3 linked regions of the Homo sapiens genome follow. The protein of the gene in region 2 purifies or fractionates together with the protein of the main gene of each other region. This does not show direct contact. Each region holds a gene or a part of one and is shown on either strand. Other genes may lie near its edges. The genes, in order: HELZ, EBF3 and PAN2.

What was found.
Region 1: the proteins of EBF3 (region 2) and HELZ purify together in Homo sapiens (affinity purification with mass spectrometry, with the first as the bait; one large-scale study listed by BioGRID). This does not show direct contact.
Region 3: the proteins of EBF3 (region 2) and PAN2 purify together in Homo sapiens (affinity purification with mass spectrometry, with the first as the bait; one large-scale study listed by BioGRID). This does not show direct contact.

Annotation. Positions count from the first base shown.
Region 1 is NC_000017.11:67,235,117-67,238,767, forward strand, and holds part of HELZ (probable helicase with zinc finger domain), read right to left. Parts: intron 1-3,651. UniProt on the Homo sapiens protein: May act as a helicase that plays a role in RNA metabolism in multiple tissues and organs within the developing embryo.
Region 2 is NC_000010.11:129,835,137-129,838,787, forward strand, and holds the end of EBF3 (transcription factor COE3), read right to left. Parts: intron 2,825-3,651; coding exon 2,807-2,824; coding exon of another isoform or gene 2,793-2,806; 3' UTR 97-2,792; downstream 1-96. UniProt on the Homo sapiens protein: Transcriptional activator. Recognizes variations of the palindromic sequence 5'-ATTCCCNNGGGAATT-3'.
Region 3 is NC_000012.12:56,320,396-56,324,046, forward strand, and holds part of PAN2 (PAN2-PAN3 deadenylation complex catalytic subunit PAN2), read right to left. Parts: coding exon of another isoform or gene 3,642-3,651; intron 3,519-3,641; coding exon 3,412-3,518; intron 3,204-3,411; coding exon 3,105-3,203; intron 2,990-3,104; coding exon 2,916-2,989; intron 2,815-2,915; coding exon 2,667-2,814; intron 2,364-2,666; coding exon 2,220-2,363; intron 2,088-2,219; coding exon 2,028-2,087; intron 1,774-2,027; coding exon 1,683-1,773; intron 1-1,682. UniProt on the Homo sapiens protein: Catalytic subunit of the poly(A)-nuclease (PAN) deadenylation complex, one of two cytoplasmic mRNA deadenylases involved in general and miRNA-mediated mRNA turnover.

The sequences.
Region 1 (3,651 bases), on a different chromosome or scaffold from region 2:
TCTCAAAGGGTGTGCCATGGCACACTGGTATGCCCTGAATGAGTTAAAGATGGCCTAGACAGTGGTGGTCTTCTCAGCAATCCAAGCAGCCACAAAGAGACAACAGAAGGCCGGGCGCGGTGGCTCACACCTGTAATCCCAGCACTTTGGGAGGCCAAGGCGGGTGGATCACGAGGTCAGAAGTTCAAGACCAGCCTGAACAACATGGTGAAACCCCGTCTCTACTAAAAATACAAAAATTAGCAGGGCATGGTAGTGCGCACCTGTAATCCCAGATACTCAGGAGGCTGAGGCAGGAAAATCACTTGAACCAGGGAGGCGGAGGCTGCAGTGAGTCGAGATCGTGTCACTGTACTCCAGCCTGGGCAACAGAGCGAGACTCCCTCACAAAAAAAAAAAAAAGAGAGAGACAACAGAAGCCAGAACCCACAAATGGTCAAGCCTCAAGCAGTGTCCTGCTTCAACCCAGCACATGCCATCACAAGAACTTGAGAACCACTCAGAGGAGCAGTGATACAAAGGGGCTCACAGCAGATGCCCAATAAATACTTGCTGAACTGAATCCTGGAATAATCCATCTGTTCCCCTTCAAACACTCTTCCCAAGATCATTTACCATTTTGACCACACACTCTTTTTTTTTTTTTTTTTTTTTTTTGAGACGGAGTCTCCCTCTTTTGCCCAGGCTGTACGCAGTGGTGCTATCTCTATCTCGGCTCACTGCAAGCTCCACCTCCCGGGTTCACACCATTCTCCTGCCTCAGACTCCCGAGTAGCTGGGACTACAGGCACCTGCCACCACGCCCGGCTAATTTTTTGTATTTTTAGAAGAGACGGGGTTTCATCGTGTTAGCCAGGATGGTCTCGATCTCCTGACCTCCTGATCCGCCCGCCTTGGCCTCCCAAAGTGCTGGGATTACAGGCGTGAGCCACTGCACCCAGCCTCGACCACACACTCTTGTGAACAATTTTTACTGACCATATTATACCAGCCTTACCATTCAAAGCCTACAATAGTTAATTGCATAATATAGCAACTGATATCAACAAACAGTTCACCATAAAGAGGCTCAAATAGTTAAATTCAACATTATATAACAAAGAAATGAAAGTGCCATTTTACACTATTAAATTCACAAAAACTTCTGAAGAAAAATGGTTTTCTCTACTACTTATGGTAAAACAGGTATATCCATATATCTGTTAGGAGCACAAACTGGTATAACACCCTTGAAAACAGTAGGACAATATATGTGAGGAGCCATAAAAACACTGATACCCCTTAACATAATAACACACTCCAAAATTTATCCTTAAGATATCATTAGAAAAAATGCAACAGTATCTACAATGATGTAGATTAAAGTGTTAACTGAAAACCACCCAGACAGCAGTATAAATACTTCACATAAAAAGACTTAGGTAAATTGTAGCATGACTTGATGAAATTATTTTTGCAGCCTTTCAATATATAAAGTTAAATTATAAAATCTATAAGATGTAAATGTTTCATGATATAGTAAGTTTTTAAAAATCAAACTATAATGTATCATAATTTAAAATGAATTTTAAAATGTATATTTTGAAATGAAATGCCAAAAAGAAAATCAATTGTCTTAGGATAATAACCCAACATTTAACAATTTATTTATTATCAATTTATTCAACATTAAATAATAAAGTTCTACCCTACCAAGGAAATGAAGGGGTTCCAGGACACAAGCTTGATAAAGTCTCAAAAGGACCACCCCTCCCTTCTACTGCTCACTTTGGCCTTGACTGAGTGTTTTCATACTCTCCTTGGTCATGATGACCTATACTAACCCAAACCCCAGTTTTTCAAGGACCAGCCAACTGCCTCAATTGGTCCTCTGATCATCCCTATGAACCCGTGGGAGACAAATCATGCAAAACAAGCGAACACTCAAGAAACAAAGAACCTGGCCGGGCGTAGTGGTTCACGCCTGTAATCCCAGCACTTTGGGAGGCCAAGGCGGGTGGATCACCTGAGGTCAGGAATTCGAGACCAGTCTGACCAACATGGCAAAGTCCCAAGCTACTAGGGAGGCTGAGGCAAGAGAATCGCTTGAACCCAGGAGGCAGAGGTTGCAGTGAGCCGAGATCCCACCAGTGTACTCCAGCCTGGGCGACAGAGTGAGACTCTGTCTCGAAAAAAAACAATTTTTTTGATTTATTTATTAGTTTAACATTTATTACTTTAACAATTTACTTATTTATTACTTTAACCAATCAGCAAGTAGTCAGCCCAAGTTTCACTGTAAACCCTAAAAATATACAATATTGCCACATTAAAGTCTCTGGGATTCTCAAGGCTAACTTGCTGACTTAGCAGTGGACTGTATCAGTTAAAAGGCAGTGTGGACTCAGACAATCAAAGAACCAGGGGCCAGGAGACCTGAGAACAATTAAAAGCAAAATGTAGATAGATTTTTTTTTTAACTACAAAAAACACAAAGCTAAAAAGTCCAGCTTAAACCAGATGAGTAAAAAAATAGCTGGAGATATTCTTTTAAGTCTTAGCCAGAGTGCAAAAGGGAGGATGGAAAGTCATTTTATTAAGAGCTGAAGCTAGCCCGGCACAGTGGCTCACACCTGTAATCCCAGCTCTTTGGGAGGCCAAGGCGGGTGGATCACTTGAGGTCAGGAGTTCGAGACCAGCCTGACCAACATGGTGAACCCCCATCTCCAGTAAAAATACAAAATTAGTCAGGCGTGGTAGCGCACACCTATAGTCCCAGCTACTTGGGAGGCTGAGGCAGGAGAATCACTTGAACCCAAGAGGCAGAGGTTACAGTGAGCTGAGATCGCCCCATTGCACTCCAGCCTGGGCAACAAAAGCAAGACTCCATCTCAAAAAAAAAAAAAAAAAGACCTGAAGCTTTTTGCGGATGAAGATATCTCACAAAAGACAAGTACTGAAAATTCATGGCCAGGCATGGTGGCTCACACCTGTAATTCCAGCACTTTGGGAGGCCAAGGCAGGTGGATCATGAGGTCAGGAGTTTGAGACCAGCCTGGCCAACATAATGAAACCCCGTCTTTACTAAAAATACAAAAAAATTAGCCAGGCATGGTGGCAGGCACCTATAATTCCAGCTACTTGGGAGGCTAAGGTAAGGAGAATCGCTTGAACCTGGGAGGCAGAGGTTGCAGTGAGCTGAGATTGCACCACTGCACTCCAGCCTGGGCGACACTGCCAAGACTCTGTCTCTCAAAAAAAAAAAAAAAAAAAAAGGAAGAAAATTAATTTAAAAATAATTTTAGGTCGGGTGCGGTGGCTCACGCCTGTAATCCTGACACTTTGGGAGGCCGAAGCGAGTGGATCACCTGAGGTCAGGGGTTTGAGGCCAGCCTGGCCAACATGGTAAAGCCCTGGCTCTACTAAAAATACAAAAAGTAGCTGGGCATGGTGGCGGGCGCCTGTAATCCCAGCTACTCAGGAGGCTGAGGCAGGAGAATTGCTTGAACCCAGGAGGCGGAGGTTGCAGTGAGCCGAGATCGTGCCATTCATTGCACTCCAGCCTAGGTGACAAAAGCGAAACTCCGTCTCAAAAAAATAATAATAATTTTAACTCTGATGCCTCATAAGGAAAGTATTAAAAGCCTTCTAATTTATTTCTGTAGTATTACC
Region 2 (3,651 bases):
TTGTGGAAAGTTCCTCTGTGGAACATTTTTATCTTGGCCAAGTTGCAGCTTCAGAACCCGGTCTGTGCAAATGAAACCCCTGATGTAACTTTTATGTTAGTGTTTAGTCATTTTAATAATCAAAAACAGAGAAAATTACCAAAAGTGAAATTCACAGACAAGAAATACTTTAATTAAATATTGTGTAAAATGAACATTTTTATACAGTTAAATATCTGAAAAAATGTACAGATAAAACAATCTTATTGTAGGGTCTTTAACAGTAAAATCTACCATTTAGTGAAGTGCTCAGTCTTGAGACAGTGAAGTGATGTGGGCATTGACTACTTAACCTAAAACACAAACCAAGTGAGGGCATGGGGAAGCTGGCAGGCGTTCTCAGTGCGTCCATGTGAGCTCTTTTGTAGATCAAACCCTTACTCGTACAAAATAAAATGGAGGCAATTTAGTTCCAAAGTGACTTCTCAGGCTTTCCCATGTAGCTAGACCTTGTCAACCATCACAAAGCCAGACTGTGACCTGCTGACTCCTGGGGACATTCTGTTTATTTAATTTTGTCCCTAGAATGAACACTTTGTAAGTTGTGCATTGTTGATTTTTGTCAAGAAGGTATTTTAAAGTCCCTCCTTTTTGTTTTAAATTCGATTTCTGCTGCAGTTTGCAAAATGTTTGCTGTGCCGTGTCTGCAAAGCACTTAGTGCAAAGGAGAAAGAAAAAAAAAAAAACACCTGACACTTTTGGTCTCACTGTGGGTTTGGCACTAAGAGGCACGATATCTGAAGGAGGTCATTCCAGTTTTAAAAGTACGGACAGTGCTGTTGGAACTGACCACAAAAATGTATTGTTAAAAAAAAATTGAAAACCAGCAGTGATTTGGGTCCCCCTGAAACCTCTGTGAATCGGAGGTGGGCCCAGGAGGGTGCAGGACGCAGCAGAAATAGTCCCAGAAAGGAGAGACGGGTCATGCAGCGGGCTTGTGCTTTTTTGTGTGTGTTTGTGTGTTTTACACCATACATCTCCAAATGAAGTATTTATTAACAATTGTAGTGTAAGCCTGTGATAAAATAGCACAAAGGTTCTTTAAAGAAGTTCACTTTTAAGGCATCAGAAAAGTTAATGTGGCAAACATTTTAATTAAAACATCAGAAGTAAATTTTATTTTAAACTTTAGGCCTCTGAATTTTTCCAGTAAACACAGTTCAGCTATGTGGCAAAGTCAATGGGTGGCATCTAAAATGACTTTTTACATTCTACAAAAAAATAAAATAAAATAAGGACACAGCCCCAAACGGTGTCACCTCTTCGCGGCCGCTCCACATGCACAGAATCTACTAGGATTTGTCACGGCCGGGTGGCACCGATTTGTTTTGACTATACAACAAACTTTTTTTTCAAAAGTATTTGTTCAGATAACTTAAAAATAATATAAAAATAAACAATGAATTTGACTTTTCCTCAAAATAAAAAAAAAAAGGATGGAAAGTCTAAACAATAGCATATTTTTTGAAGTACAAATGAAATGTAAAGACACTGGTTCAGCTTAACGAAACAGATCAAAGAGACAAGTTCTTGGCTAATGCTCTTCCCAGTATCACAACACCAGGCCGTGATCAAAAACCAATACAGACAAGAAAGAAGAAAAAGGAAAAGGTGGGAAAAGCAATGTACAAAATTTCAAAGATAAATACAATATTTATAATTGATATGTTACAAAATAAAGTCCCTTAGCAACTGCAAGTGTTCATGGGAAAGTAAGTGTCAAATGAAGACCATTTTATTCCTTATAAGACACATAAGGAATAAAACTTGTTTTTCTAAATATTTTAAGTGGATCTGAAAAAAATTCAAGACAAGTGTATAAATATTTAGCTACAACTTTGGCAAAATCACAAAAGTCTACAATTTTATAACCACATACAAAACACATTAGGGAAGAAGGATCTAGAAGTCAAAAGGACAATTTCTGGTACAAGAAACATAGACCTCACAGTAGCCTAAGAATGCAATAGTATACAGTGCTAGCAAAAGTTGAAAAAATGTTGCAGATCACACTTGCTTAACAGGAAGCTCTAGCAGTGGGAGAATATTGGAACCAACAGACAGTAGCATTTTTTCTCTGTCAGTGTGCTTGTTGAAGGCAAGAGAATTCAATATCAAAGTTACAATTTCTAACTACAATAAGTTACAAAGTTTCATTTCATGAAGATGAAGTTAAGCAGTGATAAACCCTCCCTCCCTCCCTGCCACCCCAGTTTCTCCTCATCATATAGTCATCCTTTTTTCCAGTCTGATGGCTCATACCTCCTTGGCCCTCTTTTTATCACCACAAAAAAATATTTCACATTATAGAGATACACAACCATTGTGAATCTAAGTATGAGTACAGAAAAATGTTTGGAGGCATTTTTCATCAGCGTTTCATGATCATCAAAATGGTGCATTCACAAAGTTTCTCCCAACACATAGCAATTACTAGACATGGCCAAGACGGAGTCGGAAACTTTATACAAAATAGGCGTCGCTTTGTTTTCCTTATTCTTCAGGACTGAGAAATGTGAAAATATGAGAAAAGTTCAGTCAATAAAATGGAATTGTTCATGAAGAAGTAGGCTGTTTGCATGTTGATTCTTAATAGTTTAAATAAAATCTTTAAACAAAGTCTTTTGTAGCATTTCAATTGCTGCTGATTTTTTTGAAGATACTGTTTCCATCAGCATGTCTTAATATACTAAACGTGTCCCCTGAAGTCCGTCCTTTGATGCTGGGTGCTGCGGAAGGTAAACAGAAGTCCCTCACATTGGCGGGACTACCAGCCCAGACATAGCTGCAAGACAGAAGGACAGAGCAGTTACTGCAGGCTCCCCCACGCGCCCTCCCGCCAACGCTGACGCGGGCGGGGCTGCCCTTCCCCCCTATTCAACTGGGAGGCTGGTCTTGCACAGTTCCGTCCACCAGCCTCGGGCGTGGTTAGGGCGTGCTGGGGAATCTGCTTCCTGAGGTGGGGGCACACGTGGGGACAACAACCCCCAGTCCTGCCCCTCCTGCAGCCCTCCTCAAAGGCTTCTTTAAAGGCTTCTTTTGGAAAAGGGAAGGGCTCCTGGCACTGCTGTGTGCAGAGGCTGCAGCTTCCCCACACTGACCGGTGCACTGCCAACAGGTGCAAAGCCAACGGAGGCCCGGAGCCCCCTCTGTCGAGAGAGGTGACCCAGCCTGGTCACTCCCGTGACGCCAGTCAAGGCCGGCTCACAGGCCCTGCTCTCGCTCCCTATGTGAGAACCAGACTGGCCTCAGTTTCCCCCTCTGCTTCCAGGTCTGGGCTCTGACCGTGCGGTCATCTCTCTGTATCGTAATGGTGAGTCAGGGGCTCTCCAGAATCAAAGCCACTCACAGCCCACCTGCCCTGGAACCTCCAGGCAAGGGCCACGGAGAGACGTGAGTCATGGCACCGCCTCGGGACCTTTTTTCTCTTCTCAGGAAAGAAGAGAAAACTTTGCACGAAAACGCCAAGTGGGGCTGACGCTTTCACATGAACTCCTGGTACGAATGTAATTTAAAATCTTTTACCGCTGGTGTTGTTTAATTTTTGTCAGAATGATCGTTCTCATTAATTTATGTATAACATATTAATACATTTGTTCATGTAGTGACGTG
Region 3 (3,651 bases), on a different chromosome or scaffold from region 2:
GGGAGGCCGAGGCGGGCGGATCACCTGAGGTCAGGAGTTTGAGACCAGCCTGCCCAACATGGTGAAACCCCGTCTCTACTAATTAGACACAAAAAAAAATTAGCCGGGCGTGGTGGCACATGCCTGTAATCCCAGCTACTTGGGAGGCTGAGGCAGGGGAATCGCTTGAACCCGGGAGGCAGAGGTCGCAGTGAGCTGAGATCATGCCATTGCACTCCAGCCTGGGCAACAAGAGCGAAACTCTGTCTCAAAAAAAAGAATAATTAGATGTAACATCATAACCTAAGCCATTCTGATCAAACATCCCCCCCTCATCTCATTTCCACTCCACTCTCAAGACTTACAGCTGCTTTTTTTTTTTTTTTTTTTTTTTAAGACAGGGTCTCAGGCTGGGCACTGTGGCTCACGCCTGTAAACCCAGCACTTTGGAAGGCCAAGGAGGGTGGATCACGAGGTCAGGAGTTCAAGACCAACCTGGCCAACATGGTGAAACCCTGTCTCTACTAAAAATACAAAAAATTAGCCGGACATGGTGGCAGGTGCCTGTAGTCCCAGCTACTCGGGAGGCTGAGGCAGGAGAACTGCTTGAACCCGGGAGGTGGAGGTCGCAGTGAGCCAAAATTGTGCCATTGCACTCCAGCCTGGGTGACAAGAGTGAAACTCTGTCCAAAAAAAAAAAAAAAAGCAGTCTCATCCTGTTGCCCAGGCTGGAGTACACTGGTGCAATCATGGCTCACTCACTGCAGCCTTGACCTCCTGGGCTCAAGTGATCCTCCCGCCTCAGCTTCTCCAATAGCTGGGACCACAAGTATATGCCACCACACTCAGCTAAATTTTTTTTTTTTTTTTTGAGACAGGGTTTCACTCTCGTCACCCAGGCTGGAGTGCAATGATGCAATCTTGACTCACTGAAATCTCTGACTCCCAGGCTGAAGTGATTCTCCTGCCTCAGCCTCCCAAGTAGCTGGGACAACAGGAGCACATCACCATACCCAGCTACTTTTTGTATTTTTTGTAGAGACAGGGTTTCACCATGTTGCCCAAACTGGTTTTGAACTCTTGAGCTCAAGTGATCTGCCCGCCTCAGCCTCCCAAAATGCTGGGATTACAGGCCATAAGCCACTGTGCCTGGCCTATACTAGGCTAATTAAAAAAAAAAAAAAAATTTTTTTAGGCTGGGTGTAGTTGCTCACGCCTGTAATCCCAGCACTTTGGGAGGCTGAGGCGGGCAGATCATGAGGTCAGGAGTTCGAGGCCAGCCTGACCAACATGGTGAAACCCTGTCTCTACTAAAAATACAAAAAAATTAGCCGGGTGTGGTGGTGGGCGTCTGTAATCCCAGCTACTCAGGAGGCTGAGGCAGGAGAATCGCTTGAACCCAGGAGGCAGAGGTTGCAGTGAGCCGAGATTGCGCAATTGCACTCCAGCCTGGGTGACAGAGCAAGACTGCATCTCAAAAAAAAAAAAAAAATTTTTTTTCAAAGAGATGGGATCTTGCTATGTTGCTCAGGCTGGATTTCGCACTTCTAAATTTAAGGTCTGATGAGCAGGAATCTCTTTAGTATCTCCAGAAATATTAACACTGGTTACCAATCCTAAGTACTTGCAAGCAATGTCCCAGATCTCACCCTGAAGCCCAATCTAAACTGTCCACACACTTGGGTCTACTATGTAGCACTTACTGTTCAGGTTGTATCTGGAATTGAGATTCCGTTTGACATAATAAAGGATTGCAGGTACTTTCCAATTCATGTCAAACTGCACAGCTTCATGCTATAGAAGAGAAAAAGCACTTATGGCTAATGTATATCACCCTTTTCCTTTTCCCCCACTTCAGACGGAGGCCAGGACTCAGGTGCTAGTTTTTGTTTTTTTTCAGGTGCTATTTTTAAGTGCTAATGGTTTTTATTCCTGAGGATTCCTTCCTCCCTCCCTGTTGAATCTGCCTGGCATTCTATAGAGCCCTAAAGATAAGGATGCTAGGAAAAGGGGAAATGAAAGAAGAAACAGAACATGTTGCAACTAACCTTATCAATAGGTTCAATAAGAAAGTCATTGAACAGATACCACTGCTGGTGAGTAACGCCCTATGGAAATACAAAGAAAGCCTGTGGCGATACAAATTGATGGCTGGACCACTCTGTCTCAGACTCAAGGACAGATCTGGGACTCACTGTGGCCATCCCAGGAGTGTTCCTGCCCTCTACAACCTCACTCACCTCCTTGCGCTGGTGGTAGGTCTCTCCAACTTTGATGTGAGCCACCAGGCTGCCCCCTGTGCGTGAGTCCAGGATGTGTACCACAGTAGCCATCAGGTCATACACATAGACACCATGCTCCTCCTCTGCCCTGGCTGGGCCCCACTGTGAGGGGGGTACCCAGGCTGCTAAGCTAAGTTTAAGGATGGGGAAGGGAGGGGAATGGGGACAGAGGACAGGGAGTTGGGGGTATGGGGGATGGGGGACCAGGGTGGGTTATCTCCATCCTAGCCCATCTAGGACCCCAACACTGAACTGAGTGACTATGGAAAATCCCCTAACAGGTAAATACTAGGCCTTATTCTCTTCCTTTTCCCTCTGCTAAGTTTCACCTTCCCCTGCCCTCCTTTACCTTCTGCCCCACCTTCTCTCCCTTATTCCCTTTCCTCTTCCCGGTTTTTCAACAACCTGCATCTCATCCCCATCAGTCCAATTGCAAACATCCAGCCCTTTGTTTTTGGTCATCTTCATGCGAATGGAGAAAGGAAGCCAGACGTTCTTCAACTCCTCAATGGAGGGACACACCAGCACACCCTCTGGACTCCCTAGTTCCTTCCTATCAGGTCAGAAGAATTGGAAATTTGTTCCGAAAGAGGTCTTGATAAGAGGAACCACTGGGCAATTCAATCCTTTGACAACTCCCAAGACAGCACCTACCAATCAGCCAAAGCAAATTCCTTGTTCTTGGAGATTTCCCCACCGTGTTTCTTTACTGCCATCTTGAAGGCAACCTGAACACAGAAGAAAAACATCCAGTTCTTCAGGAATGTAATCATATATGGAGGTCAGAAGGGGGATAAAATGAAAAATTATTCCGGAAGCCTTGTTTCTAGTCTGAGTCCTTACCTCAGCCTGCATTCTCCAGAAATCAGCCTCTTTTGAGCTGTTCACCTCACAATTGATGACAAGAATATCTGGCAGATGGCGGATGTTGCGGGTCTGAATCTGAGAGGAAGAAACAAACAAGGAATGGCAGGGAATGTACAGGAAAAGGAGTCTGGACAGGGACCTGGGTCTGCGTCTTCAAACTGGGATTCCTCACTCCACCAGAGATCCCTGGATGGCAGTGCTGACAGAGCCAGCCCCACATGGGATAGTGGCTGAATCTCCATGGCAGGACCAGGACTCTAGTCCAGTCCAACAGTCCACTCACCGTGGGCTGGTACTTTTCACAGGTGTCACACCAGGCCTGTGTATTCTGGTCCAGGCAGATGCTTCGCTTCAGCACCTGAGCAAAGTCATAGTTCTTCCCAGTTTTATCTGAGGGAAAATTAGATGCTATACTCCTGGTTCTCCCCTCTACCCACAGTTAGTCCCCAACACCCTCTCCCTGATATTACAGGACATTTTGGGGAGCCTTCCCAACTGAGCTGAAGGGTATACCACTTTTGCT